Linked DNA regions of Homo sapiens. The protein of the gene in region 1 interacts with the protein of each later gene in a pairwise test. Each region holds a gene or a part of one and is shown in the gene's direction. Other genes may lie near its edges.

The links. Proteins that work in one complex are often made in the same cells at the same time.
Region 2: the proteins of CD84 (region 1) and SH2D1B interact in binary tests that used the Homo sapiens proteins (3 or more experiments, as listed by UniProt).

What each region holds. Positions count from the first base shown.
Region 1 is NC_000001.11:160,575,983-160,584,242, reverse strand, and holds the start of CD84 (SLAM family member 5 isoform 2 precursor), read left to right. Parts: upstream 1-4,746; 5' UTR 4,747-4,805; coding exon 4,806-4,851; intron 4,852-8,260. UniProt on the Homo sapiens protein: Self-ligand receptor of the signaling lymphocytic activation molecule (SLAM) family.
Region 2 is NC_000001.11:162,394,782-162,402,696, reverse strand, and holds the end of SH2D1B (SH2 domain-containing protein 1B), read left to right. Parts: intron 1-3,609; coding exon 3,610-3,774; intron 3,775-5,381; coding exon 5,382-5,417; 3' UTR 5,418-7,429; downstream 7,430-7,915. UniProt on the Homo sapiens protein: Cytoplasmic adapter regulating receptors of the signaling lymphocytic activation molecule (SLAM) family such as CD84, SLAMF1, LY9 and CD244. In SLAM signaling seems to cooperate with SH2D1A/SAP.

The sequences.
Region 1 (8,260 bases):
ACTTCAGCAAAGTCTCAGGATACAAAATCAATGTGCGAAAATGACAAGCATTCCTATACACCAATAACAGACAACAGAGAGCCAAATCATGAGTGAACTCTCATTCACAATTGCTACAAAGAGAATAAAATACCTAGGAATACAACTTACAAGGGATATGAAGGACCTCTTCAAAAACCACTGCTCAAGGAAATAAAAGAGGACACAAACAAATGGAAAAACCTTGCATGCTCATGGATAGGAAGAATCAGTATCATGAAAATGGCCTTACTGCCCAAAGTAATTTATAGATTCAATGCTCTCCCCATCCAGCTACCACTGACTTTCTTCACAGAATTGGAAAAAACTATTTTAAACTTCATATGGAACCAAAAAAAAGCCCACATAGTCAAGAAAATCCTGGGCAAGAAGAACAAAGCTGGAGGCATCATGCTACCTGACTTCAAACTATACTACAAGTCTACAGTAACCAAAACAGCATGGCACTGGTATCAAAACAGATATATAGACCAATGGAACAGAACAGAGGCCTCAGAAATAACACCACACATTTACTGCCATCTGATCTTTGACAAACCTGACACACACAAGAAATGGGGAAAGGATTCCCTATTTAATAAATGGTGTTGGGAAAGCTGGCTGGCCATATGCAGAAAACTGAAACTGGACCCCTTCCTTACACATTATACAAAAATCAACTGAAGATTGATCAAAGACTTAAACATAAGACCTAGGACCATAAAAATCCTAGAAGAAAACCTAGACAATACCATTCAGGACATAGGCATGGGAAAAGGCTTCATGTCTAAAACACCAAAAACAATGGCAAAAAAAGTTAAAATTGACAAATGGGATCTAATTAAACTAAAGAGCTTCTGCACAGCGAAAGAAACTATCATCATCATCAGAGTGAACAGGCAACCTACAGAATGGGAGAAGATTTTTGCAATCTGTCCATCTGACAAAGGGCTAATATCCAGAAGCTACAAAGAACTGAAAGAAATTTACAAGAAAAAAGGCAACAACCCCATCAAAAAATGGGCAAAGGATATGAACAGACACTTTTCAAAAGAAGACATTTACGCAGCCAAGAGATGTATGAAAAAATGCTTATCATCACTGGTCATTAGAGAAATGCAAATGAAAACCACAATGAGACCATCTCATGCCAGTTAGAATGGCAATCATTAAAATGTCAGGAAACAACAGATGCTGGAGAGGTTGTGGAAAAATAGGAACACTTTTACACTGTTGGTGGGAGTGTAAATTAGTTCAACCATTGTGGAAGACAGTGTGGCAATTCCTAAAGGATCTAGAACTAGAAATACCATTCGACCCAGCAATCCCATTACTGGGCATATATCCAAAGGATTATAAATCAATCTACGATAAAGACACATGCACACATATTTATTTATTTATTTATTTGCAGCACTATTCACAATAGCAAAGACTTGGACAAATGTCCATCAATGATAGACTGGATTAAGAAAATGTGGCACATATACACCATGGAATACTATGCAGACATAAAAAAGGATGAGTTCATGTCCTTTGCGGGGACATGGATGAAGCTGGAAACCATCATTCTCAGCAAACTATCACAAGATCAGAAAACCAAACAACTCATGTTCTCACTGATAAGTGGGAGTTGAACAATGAGAACACATGGACACAGGGAGGAGAACATCACACACTGGGGCCTGTGGGGGATGGGGGGGGCTAGAGGAAGGATAGCATTAGGAGAAATACCTAATGTAGGTGACGGGTGGATGGGTGCAGCAAACAACCATGGCACGTGTATACCTATGTAACAAAACTGCACGTTCTGCACATGTAATCCAGAACTTAAAGTAGAATAATAAAAAAATTAAGTTACATAAACGTAAAATAAAATACACAGTATTAAAAAAAATCTTGTAATACCATTTCCACATAAGAAATTCATCTCTCCAGTAAATTACATATCACCATAAACAAAAATATACAGGAACTGAGAGAAATCAATAACTCTACTGTTTTGTGCAAATGCAGTTGAGTTTATGATCACAACTGCCCTTATCTATAAGTCTGCTAACCCTTGAGCCTTGAAGGGAAAAGATAAACACCAGCAGCCAGTGTTTTAATTGTACCACAAGAAGGCCTGAACAACAAGAACATTTTTCCTGCATTGGTTTCATCAATACCCTGTCATTGAAGTCAGGAAATACCTTGCCAGTAAGGGACTGCGTTTTAAAGTTATTTTGATATTGGACAGTGCCCCTGGCCACCCAGAGCCCCAGGAGTTCAACAGCAAAGGCACTGAAATGGTATACTTCTCCCCAGACATGTTTCTAATTCAGCCTCTAGAACAGGGGGTCATAAGGACCTTTAAGGCTCATTATATACGTACTCTATGGAAAGAATTGTCAATGCCTAGGAAGACAACCCCAGGAGAGGGCCATCATGAAAGTCTAGAAAGATTACACCATTAAAGATGCTATCATTGTTGCAGAAAAAGTGGTGAAAGCCATTAAGCCTGAGACAATAAACTCTGCTTGAGGAAACTGTGTCCAAATGTTGTGCGTGACTTCACAGGATTTATGACAGAGCTAATCAAGGAAATTATGAAAGATATTGTGGATATGGCAAAAAAAAAAGTTGGGGTAAAAGGTTTCAAGAAATAAATCTTGGCAAAATTCAAGAGCTAATAGACACCACACCAGAGGAATTAATGGAAGATGACTTGATGGAGAAGAATGCATCTAAGCCAGGATCAAACAATGCGGAAGAAAACATAGAAGCAGCAGTGCCAGAAAACAAGCTGACATTAGACAGTCTGACAGAAGGCTTCTGACTATTCGGGACCGCTTTTGACTTCTTTTATGATATGGGCCCATCTATGGTATGATACAGGCACTAAAACTAAAACAAATGGTAGAAGTAAGAAGGGGTACCATATAGAAATATTTTTAGAGAAATGAACAAGCAAAAAAGTCAGACAAAAATTAAATATACTTCTGAAAAGTTACACCGACTGTGCCTGTCTCTTCCACCTTCCCTTCAACCTCCTCTATCTCTTCTTCCCCAGGGACCCCTGAGACAGCAAGACCAACTCCTCCTTATCCTCCTCCTCCTTAGCCTACTTAACATGAAGATGATGAGGATAAAGACCTTTATGATGATCTAATTCCACTTAATGAACAGTAAATATATTTTGTCTTCATCATGATTTTCTTAATACCATTTTATTTTCTCTAGCTTACTTTCCTGCAAGAATATGGTAAACAATGTATATGACACATAGAATATGTGTTAATCAACTGTGTTGTTGGTAAGGCTTCCTGTCAACAGTAGGCTATTAGTAGTTGAGTTTAGGGGTGTCAAAAGTTATGCATGGATTTTCGACTGGTTGAGGGGACAGCACTCCAAACCCCTGCATTGTTCAAGGGTCAACTATATTCAGTATTATGTAAGTATATATGGGAAATGATCAGCAGGATTATTTAATGTGTGACTCTAGAGGCCAGGTTACCTAGGAATGAGCTAGCTAGCATGAGGACTCGTCTCAGTTAAAAAAAAGCTCCTCCAGGTCTCAGGGGTAGTGTCCCCAGCCTTCTCATTACTCCCCAAAACAGCTGAGTCAAACTTAAATATTCATTTCTATCCCCATTCCCAGACAACATCTCCCATACACACATTACACAATCACTCTTATTCTTGTTAACCAAGATGAAGACCCTCTACAAGAAATAGTCCTGTTACATCTAGCTCAACTCCACCTAAGCCTGCCTCTGCACCTGCTGTCTCTCATGCCCAGGAGTCACAGTCTTTGCCAAGTGACACTGCTGGCTTTTAACTCAGTTCCCTAATTCACTGTGTGATATAGGGAAAAGTCACTTCCTCTCCTTCTGAGCCAGTTTCTCCATCTGCAAAATAGATTCAATAGTCTAAAAATCCCTTTTGACTTCATTTTTATCAAACACTTTTTGTGTCCCTAATAAGGTGTGATCATAATCATAATGTTTCATGATGATATCATGGAATTATACATAATTATATGTATGTAGTTATACTATATTATATATTAATATATTATATAATTATATATTATTGTATCATATATAAATATAATTATATATTATTAATATAATACTTAATATTGATTATGTTAAATAATATCACATGTTGATTATACATTATAATACATAATCATGTACTTGTGATCATTTTATATAACTATAATTATGTAATTTTAATTGCTATGTTTTTTTAAGCTCCTACCATATGTCAAAACATTTTTCCTCTTTCATATCCCCCACCGCCATTCGCCTAATAATGGTAATTCATTCTTTGAGCCTGTCTCAGGTTGGTTGTCAGTTTCTTTAGGAAGCCTACTCCAACTTTTCTTAGCCTGAGTTAGATGCCCCTATTCCTCTCATAGTTCCCTGTATTTTTCCTATTGCAATGCTTACTACATTAAATTGGAACTGCTTATAGAGTTGTTGATTACTCCAAAAAAGAGTATAAATGCCATGAAAGGAGGGTGATCAATTGTTTTGTTGCTCTGTATATTGCCAGCACCCAGAAGAGGGCCTGGCACATAGTAGGCACACAATAAATATGTGTTGAATAAATAATTAATGCTAGGCACTTTAAATTGGAAAAAACTAGCACAGTAATACAAAGACCAATGTTAACTAAATCAGTTAACATGCACTTCCTTTCTTAAATGTCGTTATAAAAAGGAGGAAGAAAACTCAAGTGAAACTGACTCTGCTAGAACAGTGCCGTGCTTTTCCACAGAAGGTTAGACCCTGAAAGAGATGGCTCAGCACCACCTATGGATCTTGCTCCTTTGCCTGCAAACCTGTGAGTTCTGACCCTTGCTGATCGCCTCCTAGTTTTCCATAAAGTTTTAAAAATTGCCCTTAAGGAAGACATTGAACTGTCTTTTTGATCTGTGTTTAGCAGAACACCCTGGGTCTCAGTATCTACTGTACTCAACAGGATCCAACTGGCTGGGGAGAGACTTAAAATTCAAACCTAAGTGTTTAGGTTCAGCTTTAAAGTTTATATTACTGAGTTATATTTCTGAGATCTGGAGATCTCAGTTTCCAAAGGTCTGAGGCAAATCCTTCTCAGAGGAATCAGCACTTGGTAAACCCACCCAAAAAGCCTGGCAAAAGAAAGATCTTCTAAAAGCTTGAATGACTTACAAGCAATTTCTTCTTGGCATTCAATTGTGATGGCGTTTGAGAGAGAAAAATGTCTTTCCTAATTATAGTTGATTGTTCTATCAGGTTAGAGTGATGGATGACTCATCGTTATCATTGTTGAGCCTCATCTCTATAAACTCCCTTTATTTTCAAAACACAGAGCTATTACTCTGCTTTTATCCTCAACAAACTCTAAAATAAATGAGGAAGAGATTACTATCCCATTTTTTACAAATAGTCTCAAAAAAGAGTTGGAGAACTTGAATTAAAAACCCTATTTTTCTTACTTATGGCATAACAGTAAACTAAAAGAACGACATGAATATTGATTGTTATTTGTACAAAGAAAATTGTAACATTAACATAGATCTGGGAGTGCTGTGTCATTGTACATGTTATCTCCTTAAATACAAACAATTGCTCTAACAGAAATTTACTATGTTTGGAACTTCTAGATCTACTTCTAGTATCTCTTGCCAGTTCTGAAAATGCACTAGCAGAATTCTGGCATGAGTTAGAACCCTGGGAACCTAGTACGTTTGGATTTTCTGTAAAGGTAGAATCAATGCACTGTGATCTCTCTGGTTTCTTTGGCCATTTCAAGCTATGGCTCCTTTAATTTGAACTTCATGGAGATTGTAACCACTAGTCAGACCAAATTTTTGGAGCCTCTGCTGGTCGCTCTAGAATGGCAGACAGAAAATGCAAGTAGATGAGGAATGGTACTAGGGATGTCCCTAATCTTCCAGAGAGAGACCAGACAAGGTAGCATTTGATACCACTTAATTTGCAAAACATTCTACAATGTTTATGCCTACATTCTTATGTCATCCATATGAAAACCATTGAGATGAGCAAGATAGACGTTATTAATCCCATTATGCAAGAAAAATAATAAATTAAGATTTAGGGGTTTAAAAATTCACCTGAAATTTCACTACCTAAATTGGTAGAGCTGGAAATAGACATTGGTTTTTCTAATTCCAAGGTTAATCCCAATCCCATTGGTTCTTCTTTCTGCTCCACCTGACCTCTTCACTCATTGCTTTCAAATTTTTGATGCTCTTCAAAAGGTTAATACCTGCTAAGATAAAAGGTAGCTCTAGGATACACTTCTTTCATCTACTGAAACTGAAATAAAGTTGTCAAATCAGCTAGTAGTGAATTGTTTACAAGTTTTGTGACCTAGACGAAGTTACATTCCTCCTCTGACTCTTGTTTCAGCTTCAAAATGGGGAGGTATTAATACAGTAGAATTGTTTTGAGAATCAAAATGATGATAATGCATGTACAACACTTGCCATGGTACCTGAATATAGTAAGTGTTTAACAGATATCAGCTAATGCTACTATTTTTCACACTCGCTTTTCATTCATTATTAGGAAGAGCCATGGCTTTACCACACAGAGATCCTGGGCAGGACTCCTCTGTCAGGGAATTGTCCAAGGAACATAAACAGGAGAAAAGGTGGTGGGAGTTTGAGCTTAGGTGTTGGTTGTCTGGGTTCTGGAAAAGGAAACTAGGAGTGAGATATTCATTTCATCAAGGATCCATGAAAGGGGAATGGGAGCTTGTTTTTATAAAAGTGAAGCCAGGAGTACTTTTTACATACTGTCCACCTTTACTGAATTATCTGTTTGCCTCTTAAGGATTATTCTGCAAACCTTTTCTGAGCACAAAAATATACCATGAATTCCTCCTGCTGCTGTTCCTGGTAGAGGTAGTCCCTTACATTCAGTATTGGGCTTAGGAGTCTACACTTTACACATTTCCCTGGAATTCAGAGCAGTTGAAGAGGCTGAGAAGCAGTGGAGAGATGCAGGGAGAAATCCCCATTTCCCCTCAGAAATCACCGACATAAGGAAAGTCTGAGTGTGCAAACTTATGACTGTTCCATGTTGGAAAAGTTTTCTCTGAGTCAAAATTCACAGTCTTATGCTCTGATGCCAACTTTCTGATCATGACTTTGGAAACACCATGACTCTGACTGTCTCTCCACATACCCTGGGAGACACTCCCACTCTGAGGGTAGGAGATGAAGGAGTCCACCAGTTTTAATCCTTGCCCACCCCCTCTACATATACTGTCTCATACTCTTAATTCTTCCTTTTCTCTGCCCCATTCGTATTTCTATTTCTTCAACTCCCTGTCTTATCTCCCATCAATAATAGTAATAAGTAACCATTTATGGAGCAATCACTGCATATTCAGCATTACTCTAAGTAGTCTACAGTTATTATTTTGTTTAATCCTTACAATACACTATGAGATAGATACGGTTTATGTGCACATATACAGATGAAAGCATTGATACACAGAGAGTCAAAGGCCACTTAACCAAAAAGTGAAAGAAGTAGAATTTAAGCTTCAGAGTCCTTAGACTTCACCTCTGAGTCATGCTGCCTCCACCCACATTGATGCTGAAGTGGAGTAAATTACTCTCCCTACTATTAATGTTTGGGAATATGTCAGTAAAGAGTGATGATTTATTTATTTCTGTCAAGACAGGATTATTCGGATAGAATCTGTGCCTTTCTCTATACCCACCCACAGAGGAGGAAGGAGCTGTTGGCAGGTCCTTGCCAATAACGGAAGTTTAGGCAGGGCAGTGAGGCAGAATACCCAAGCAAACAACCATCTCCAGACATATTTCAAATACCGTTCACTTTAATATTATTCAAATGTGATTTGAATTAGTTTCTTTAAACAAATAAAAGTCCAATATCAGCATGATGTTGATGTCTTGTTGGATGTTAAACATGGTCATGGGCATTTCAGCAGTTGAGACCTAAAATTCTAAGAAATGAGTGGGCTCACTATGGGTAACTGGACCCCAACCATCATCCTGGGGCTCAGAGACAGGAAGCATACCTGTGGAAGTATGCTGACAAAACAACCTGCCACTGATCTGAAGTCCTTGCATTGAGGGGTCTTCAAGATAAGGACAAGGCCTCTGTATTAGAATGAGATTTAAGCAGATGACTACCACAGACATTCAGAAAAGGGCTCAAAAGCAGAAATCCAGTTATAGAAATGGAAATATATTACATATGGGTAAAAC
Region 2 (7,915 bases), 1.8 Mb from region 1:
GGGGAGAAGAACCTGGGAACATGTCTTTTACCTGAGCCATGACTGTGCGAAAGCATTCTAAAAAGGAAAGCACAATGCAGAGATGAGAGTCAGATCGAGTTAACCTGGTTTTTCCCTGAAGAGAAATAGGAAGGTTCTAGGCTTGGGTTCTACTTTTTTTGTTGTTGTTTTGTTTTTTTTAGACGGAGTCTCGCTCTGTCGTCCAGGCTGGAGTGCAGTGGTGCGATCTCGGCTCACTGCAACCTCCGCCTCCCGGGTTCAAGCGATTCTCCTGCCTCAGCCCCCGCCCCCCCAAGTAGCTGGGACTACAGGCGCGCGCCACCACCCCCAGCTAATTTTTGTATTTTCAGTAGAGAAGGGTTTTCGCCGTGTTAGACAGGATGGTCTCGATCTCCTGACCTTGTGATCCGCCGGCCTCAGCCTCCCAGACTGCTGGGATTACAGGCGTGAGCCACCGCACCCAGCTGGGTTCTACTTTTGAATAACCCTCACTGTTATTCCACTGTGGCTCCTCCACTGGCCAAACACACCAGCCTGGACTCCAAGCAAAACCTCCGTTGAATTAGAAGACTCAACAATGATGCAAGATGGAGCTAGAAAGGGACGGTGGAAAGAGGTCAGAGTGTTTAGGGAGTCAAGTGTGCCCAATAGTTGTACGAAAATATAGTGGGAAGCATCAGATAGCTGAAAGTCTTAGGGTTTGTTTAATTTTTCTGGTTTACTGAGAGCTAAGCAGAAAAACATTTTGCTTCTTTTAAATTTAGTTCTCTGGCTTAAGAAGTAGAGTATAATAAACATAACTGCTAACAGAGAATCCTAAAATAATCTTTCTCAAACACTTACATATAAGGTTAAGGAGACTACAGATTTCTAAGAATCTTCAGTATATTAATGTTTACTCTGAATATCTGAAAGAGACTAGAATATAAAATGATCCCCAAACACCTCACTTATACTATTTTTCTTTTGCTATAGAGGACATTATTGAGGCAGTTGACAAAATTTGAATAAATTCAAATTTTGAATAAGATTAACAAATAGTACTGTATCCAGGTTAATTTCCTGATTTTAATCATTGTAGTATGGTTATGTAATATCCTTACTTTTGAAGAAATACTGAAGTATTTAAAGGGATATTATGTCTGCAAATTAACTTTGAAAATAGCTTATATATATGTGTATATATACATGCACAATATATGTGTATATATTTGGAAAGAGAATAAAAAGCAAATATAATAAAATGTTAACATTGGGGTGTGGGTGAAATATATGGTAATTTTTAAAAATTATTTTTGCAACTTTGCTATGTCTGAAATAATTTCAAGATAAAATGTCTTATAAAAAGCAACTTATTTTAAGACTTTTTTTTCTGTTTATTCTTTGGGAAATTCTGGATAATTCCTCAGTACCCTGTTTTGTCTCTTGTGTGGACAAAATAGAGGGAGACATCCAAATCATTTGTAACTCAGACACAAAGAGGCGTTTCACTGGGGAGCAGCTTTGAGCTTAGAAGCCTGCAGTGATGCCTTTTGTTGAAATGACTGCATTAAAGGAACCTCCTTGCAGATGACTTTGATGTCAGCCTGTACCTCTAATACAGAGGTTAATCAGGCGCATATCAGAAAACCTTCTGATCACCAACCCCTTTCTCTAGTCTGACTTGGTGGCCATATGAAAACCACAGTGACGATCAAGAAAACCAAATACACAAAAGTAGAGGAAGAAAATTCATGTGTGTGTGGGTGTGTAAGACAGAGTCTTGCTGTCACCCAGACTGGAGTGCAGTGGCGTGATCTCGGCTCACTGCAACTTCCGCGTCCTGGTTCAAGCGATTCTCCTGGCTCAACCTCCCGAGTAGCTGGGATTACAGGCGTCTGCTACCATGCCCAGCTAATTTTTTGTATTTTTAGTAGAGACGGAGTTTTGCCATGTTGACCAGGCTGGTCTCAAACTCCTGACCTCAAGTGATCCACCCACCTTGGCCTCCCAAAGGGCTGGGATTACAGGCATGAGCCACTGAGCCTAGCCAGAAAATTCTTTTCATTTTAAAATTATTTCTAAAAGGTTATATTAGAAAATAGTGCTTGGTGGGCCAGGCATGGTGGCTCCCGCCTGTAATCCCAGTACTTTGGGAGGCTGAGGCAGGCAGATCATGAGGTCAGGAGATCGAGACCATCCTGGCTAACACAGTGAAACCCCATCTCTACTAAAAATACAAAAAAAAAAAAAAAAAAAATTAGCCAGGTATGGTGATGGTGCTTGTAATCCCGGCTACTTGGGAGGCTGAGGCAGGAGAATGGCATGAACCCGGGAGGCGGAACTTGCAGTGAGCTGAGATCACACCACTGCACTCCAGCCTGGGCCACAGAGTGAGACTCCGTCTCAAAAAAAAAAAAAAAAAAAAAAAGTACGTGGTGTATAGCTGGTAAACAGAAAACATCTATTTACAACTTAACTGAGTTGTGTTGCCATTCCCACTTTCTATTTACATTGGGACTTTTTTGGTTTTGTTTTGCCCACATGGAGATTGTGAATTCATCAAGTATACAAATTGTGTATTTTAAATTCATAAAGTATACAAAATGCATATTTTAAAGACATGGAATCAACCTAAATGCCCATCAGTGATAGACTGGATAAATAAAATGTGGTACATATACACCATGGAATACTAAGCAGCCTAACTGTTCTCCAAATTTGAAAAACCAAATCAGAGGCTGGTGGTTCACCTTTTAAAGCCAATAAAGAGAACCAGCCCCAGCTTGAGATGGAGAGGATCGAAATTAGAGTTGGAAGCATTTATGGTAAAATCTCTCACATGGGGATCAGAAAGGAGCTTAGGTCAAAAAAGAATGAAATCATGTCCTTTGCAGGGACATGGATGGAGCTGGAGGCCATTATGTTTAGCAAACTAATGCAGGAACAGAAAACCAAATACTGCATGTTCTCACTTGTAAGTGGGAGCTGAATGATAAGAACACATGGACACACAGAGGAGAACAACACACACAGGGGCCTGTTGGAGGGCTCAGGGTGGGAGGAGGGAGAGGATCAGGAAGAATAGCTAGTGAATGCTGGGCTTGATACCTGGGTGATGGGATGGTCTGTGCAGCAAACCACTACGGCACACGTTTACCTATGTAACAAACCTGTACATCCTGCACATGTACCCCTGAACTTAAAATAACAGTTGGAATTTTTTTTAATTGCATTTTTGCATTCCCATCAGAAGTCCACTTCCGATAGTCCCTTAAGATAGCAAAGCCCGCCTGTAGGTACAGACGTAAGCCCTTACAGGGGTACCCTTCACAGTGTATCTGCGAGAACTGCCCCAGGTAAACTTCCCAAGGATGGGGTTCACTTGATACTATGGACTGCGCTGGGATCCCTTGATTGCAAATCCTCTTTACTCAGAGTGGCTCAAGTCAGAGGTTGGTCTTAGAAATGAGAGTTTCTGTGAACTGGGAGTGGTGTGAGCTCCAGCCACTTGTTTTCAGTTTTTCAGCTCATAGAAGGGCAGCCCTGAAAACCCACTGCTTTGAGAAGTGTCACATTTCACACGCAATTGCATGATAATGAGTGATTTCCTTTCTTGTATTTTTGCAGACTGCAGAAGGTTCTCCAAAACAGGTCTTTCCAAGCCTAAAGGAACTGATCTCCAAATTTGAAAAACCAAATCAGGGGATGGTGGTTCACCTTTTAAAGCCAATAAAGAGAACCAGCCCCAGCTTGAGATGGAGAGGATTGAAATTAGAGTTGGAAACATTTGTGGTAAAATCTCTCACGTGGGGGTCAGAAAGCAATCTTAATCCTATTTCCACCAATGCCTTACTTTGTAAACTCAATACAGACAAATGCTCTTTTCTGTGACATTATCTCTAAAAAGCTTCATCCTACTAAGAGCAATTTCCATTTTGTTGAGAAGTGCTGTCTTTTAGTCCCTGAGGGCCAAGACAGAGAGCTTGCTGCGTTTGCAGCCAGGATAGCAAGAGTGGTTCCTGGGCAGACAGCTGACTTCAAATTCATTCTGTGACCTTGTGCAGACGATTCAAGTTTGAGAATAAATGGGCAAATGGGCAGATTTTCAAATGAGAAAATCACTCTAGCCCTTCAAGCCCTCCCCAAAGCGTATACTGTTACACTTTGCTCAATATTTGCTAAGCATTCATTTATAAAGTGCTGGGTGTCAAATTATGTCAGATACATTTTTAAAGGCATTAAGCCGTAGTGGAAAATGAGAGATGGTCAGTAAATCTGAGTGCAGAGAATCCCTGCCTAAGCCTCTCAAATTATATCATGAGCAGCTACTCTTCCTTACCCACACTCTTGAAATCTGCTCTCAGTAAAGAATTTACTATCAGTTGCAATGTTGTTTGAATTTAGCTCAGACTTCCAGAAACACTTAGGTCTTAATCCTGTTTTCCCATGTTGGAATGTGTGGTTATATTCTCAGTGAAAGGGATGGCAGTTATCAGTGGCAGGTGATGGGATGAGATCAGATATCCTCCCTAGGAGAGGGACAGAGGACAGAGAGTTCTCTGGGAGCCTGCAATCACTCCATCCCCATTCTACTCTGTCTGCGGCAAAGTCACCCTTTAGGCTGCCATAGCCGGCTTCTCATTTCCCCAGCAAGGCTAAGCATAAAATACAACTCCCTTCCCTACCATTGTGTCCCTGTCCCCCCATCCCCATGAAGGGCAGTGTGTACTCATGGACACAAAAAAATCACTTTCTATAGGTCCAGCTGCAGATGTAGTCCCACAGCTACTTTCCCCCCCAAATTTATAGAATAAAAAGTATACAGTGTGGCAGATCTAGAAACCCAGGAATGTATCTGTGCTGCAGCCCTTAGGCAAACCCAGATGAGTTGCTGGGACTGGTTGGGGTGGTGGTAGCATTTGTCTCAACAATGAGAAAAGAATCATAAATCCCAGGAGGAGAACCCTCAGAAATCTTCCCCAAGACCTGGGCATGAATCTCACTCCATCAGTTTTCCATGCCGGGTCAGTGCTGACACAGCAGGCTCCAAAATTCTCAGCTACTGAAGAGGAAATATTCCCCATCAACCTCTTCCTCCCATTCCCATTGCTTCCTTAGAAGAAGCTTCAGATGTTCTTACTCCAAGGGAGGTGCAGATTTCTTGCTGGTGAATGGAGACACTTGTGCTGGAAGGTCTGAGGCTTGGCTTATAAAGAGATCTCCTATTTTGTTAGGAGGGCTCCCTGTAGTACCCCAGCCTTTAAAGATACAACTTTCAGGTGGCATCAACATGGCTCTGTGCCTGGGGAGGGGTCTTCTTTCCTTTGAGTGGGGTTGTTTGATATGACTTCTGGGTGTGGTCTCATGGCTGGTCTTCTGCTTTTTTTTTCCCTCCAAAGAACAGTAACAGCGATTATGTGGATGTCTTGCCTTGAAGATAAGGCTGCCGGACAAAGCAAGTTGAAGAGATGAGTAACAGTTCTCACTGATGACCCACTTCTGCAGGCATAGGTCCAGAGCACCAAACTCTAGTGGACAATTCAGACTCTCCTGGTTGTGTAACTGAAGATGTTCTGCCCACCAGCACCAGAGGTCACTCTCCACATCCCCGCCTCCCAGACATATACCAGGAGCAATTTCAAAACCCTCTCCAGTTTCACTCTTCTTTCTTGGAATGGGACAGCCTGAACATTTTCCCTTTGACTTGTTAAAGGTACCACCCTACATCATGGTTGACACCCTCCTTTGGACCATGCAGTCAGAGGGGCAGCTTTATACAGAGGAGGGGCACACTTGTCTGTGAGTTTGAAGCCCTGAGTTCCAGTCCTGTGGCTGTGTGACTTTGAACACGTTTCTGCCCATCTCCAGGTCTTAGTTTCTTTGTCTCTGTGGTTGGGTGGGATGATAAACATTGCCCCAGTCTCTCTGTTGAGCCTGCTTGTGTCAGGTGAAGGTGAGGGATCGGGAGTGATGGAGATGCATACAGATCAGCACCTTCTCTGTACCTGCTGGACCCCCATGTGCACCCTTCTCCCTCCAGCCTGGGCTACTCTCCTCCTGGTTCTTTCTAATCTTAAACTTCCTGGTGAGCATTGCCCCAGCCACACTTTCTCCCTGGTTTTGCTTAATTCCACTTATGCATCAGTCATTTCAACAGCATGAATGTGGTTCTGTACAGTGATGTATGTGGAGATTTCTAAAATATTCTATGTGTGATTTCTGTTCCCAACTAGGTTCTAAGTGCCATCAAAGCACGGTTGGGTCTCCCTTGTATCTTCCACAGTGTGTAGAAATTTGTGCTGCCCAGAGCTGTGCCTAGTTCATAGAAACTGACTGGAAGCACATTGCTGAGGGAGGTTTGTTGAATTGGTTTTTAAGGTTTACTGAAATTGATTTGCTGAATTTTTCTGCTAGTTCAAAATGTGAATTAGGACCTGGTCAGTTTGAAATATACCAAATTCTATGCCCTTTCTCTTACCTATCATCAAATTGTAGTAATGTATTTCACCCCACTGGACTTATCTTCAGAGTTTTAAAAGAGAGGAGCTCTCGACTTAGAGGTAATATGAACAGATGAACAGACACTGTGGCTGGAGCCCCAAAGTGTGGAGCATTGTGAGATTTGGGGTCACAGCAATTTATGGCTACTATTCCCTGGGTCTGGTAGGTAGGACAAATGTCCTCTTTTACTTTTCAAAACTGGCTTAGGTATTCATGGACCTTGATTCTTCTATATACATTTTATAATAAATACGTGAAATTGCTTAAAACCTCTTTTTGGAATTTTTAATGAACTTGCAACAAATTTGTAAATAGGAGAGAACTGACGTTCTTGTGATGTTTTCCCATGCATAAACATGCCACATCCATGTTCTTGGGTCATCTTTTTTGCCCTTTCATGGAGTCATAAATTTTCCCAACTGAAGTCTTGTATATTCTGTTAGATTAATTCCTATTTCTAGTTGCTGTAAATGATATCTTATGTTTTATTACATTTCTAATAGGATATGGTGTTGGTGAAATGTTAACCCTCTCATTAGATCTACTAGTTTACCTGTTGATTCTATTGTGTTTTCTATGTAAATGATTTTGTCAGCTATAAATAATAACATTTTATTTTCTCTTTCCTTGCAATACCTATGCTCATTTATTTTTTATGTTTACCCATTGGTTAGGGCCTCCTGTATACATTAAACAGTTCATAGTCATGATAGTGAGTATTCTTACACTGTTCCCAGTATTACAGGGAATGCTTAGAAATTTTCTTTATTTAAACATTATGTTTGTTGTAGCCTTGTTAAAGGCTATTTTATAATTTTTACTAGAAATATTTTGACATTTATTGTGATTTTTTTCTATCTCTAATCTATTGAGATAGTCACATTCCTTTTGTCTTCACTCCATTATAAAGGTAAGTTACCTTAATAAAATTGTTGATATCATTTCATCCTTGCATTGCTTCACTTGATAATATTTTATTATTTTTCATAAACTGTGGAATTTGGTAAGTTAATATTTCATTTAAGATTTTTGCATTAAAACTCATAAACCAAATAGGACTATAATTTACTGAATCATGGTTACACTGTTCATATAAAGCGAAGAAAAGTCTTTTTCCTTTTACCATTTTCTGCAACAACTCTTCAGGTAAAGATTATTTGTTCTGGGCTGGGTGTGGTGGCTCACACCTGTAATCCCAGCACTTTGGGAGGCCGAGGTGGGGGGATCACTTGAGGTCAGGAGCTCAAGATCAGCCTGGCCAACATGGTGAAACCCTGTCTCTACAAAAATACAAAAATGTAGCCAGGTGTGGTGGCACACGCCTATAATCCCAGCTACTTAGGAGGATGAGGTGGGAGAATCGCTTGAACCCGGGAGGTGGAGGTTGCAGTGAGCCAAGATCATGTCAGGGCACTCCAGCCTGGGTGACAGA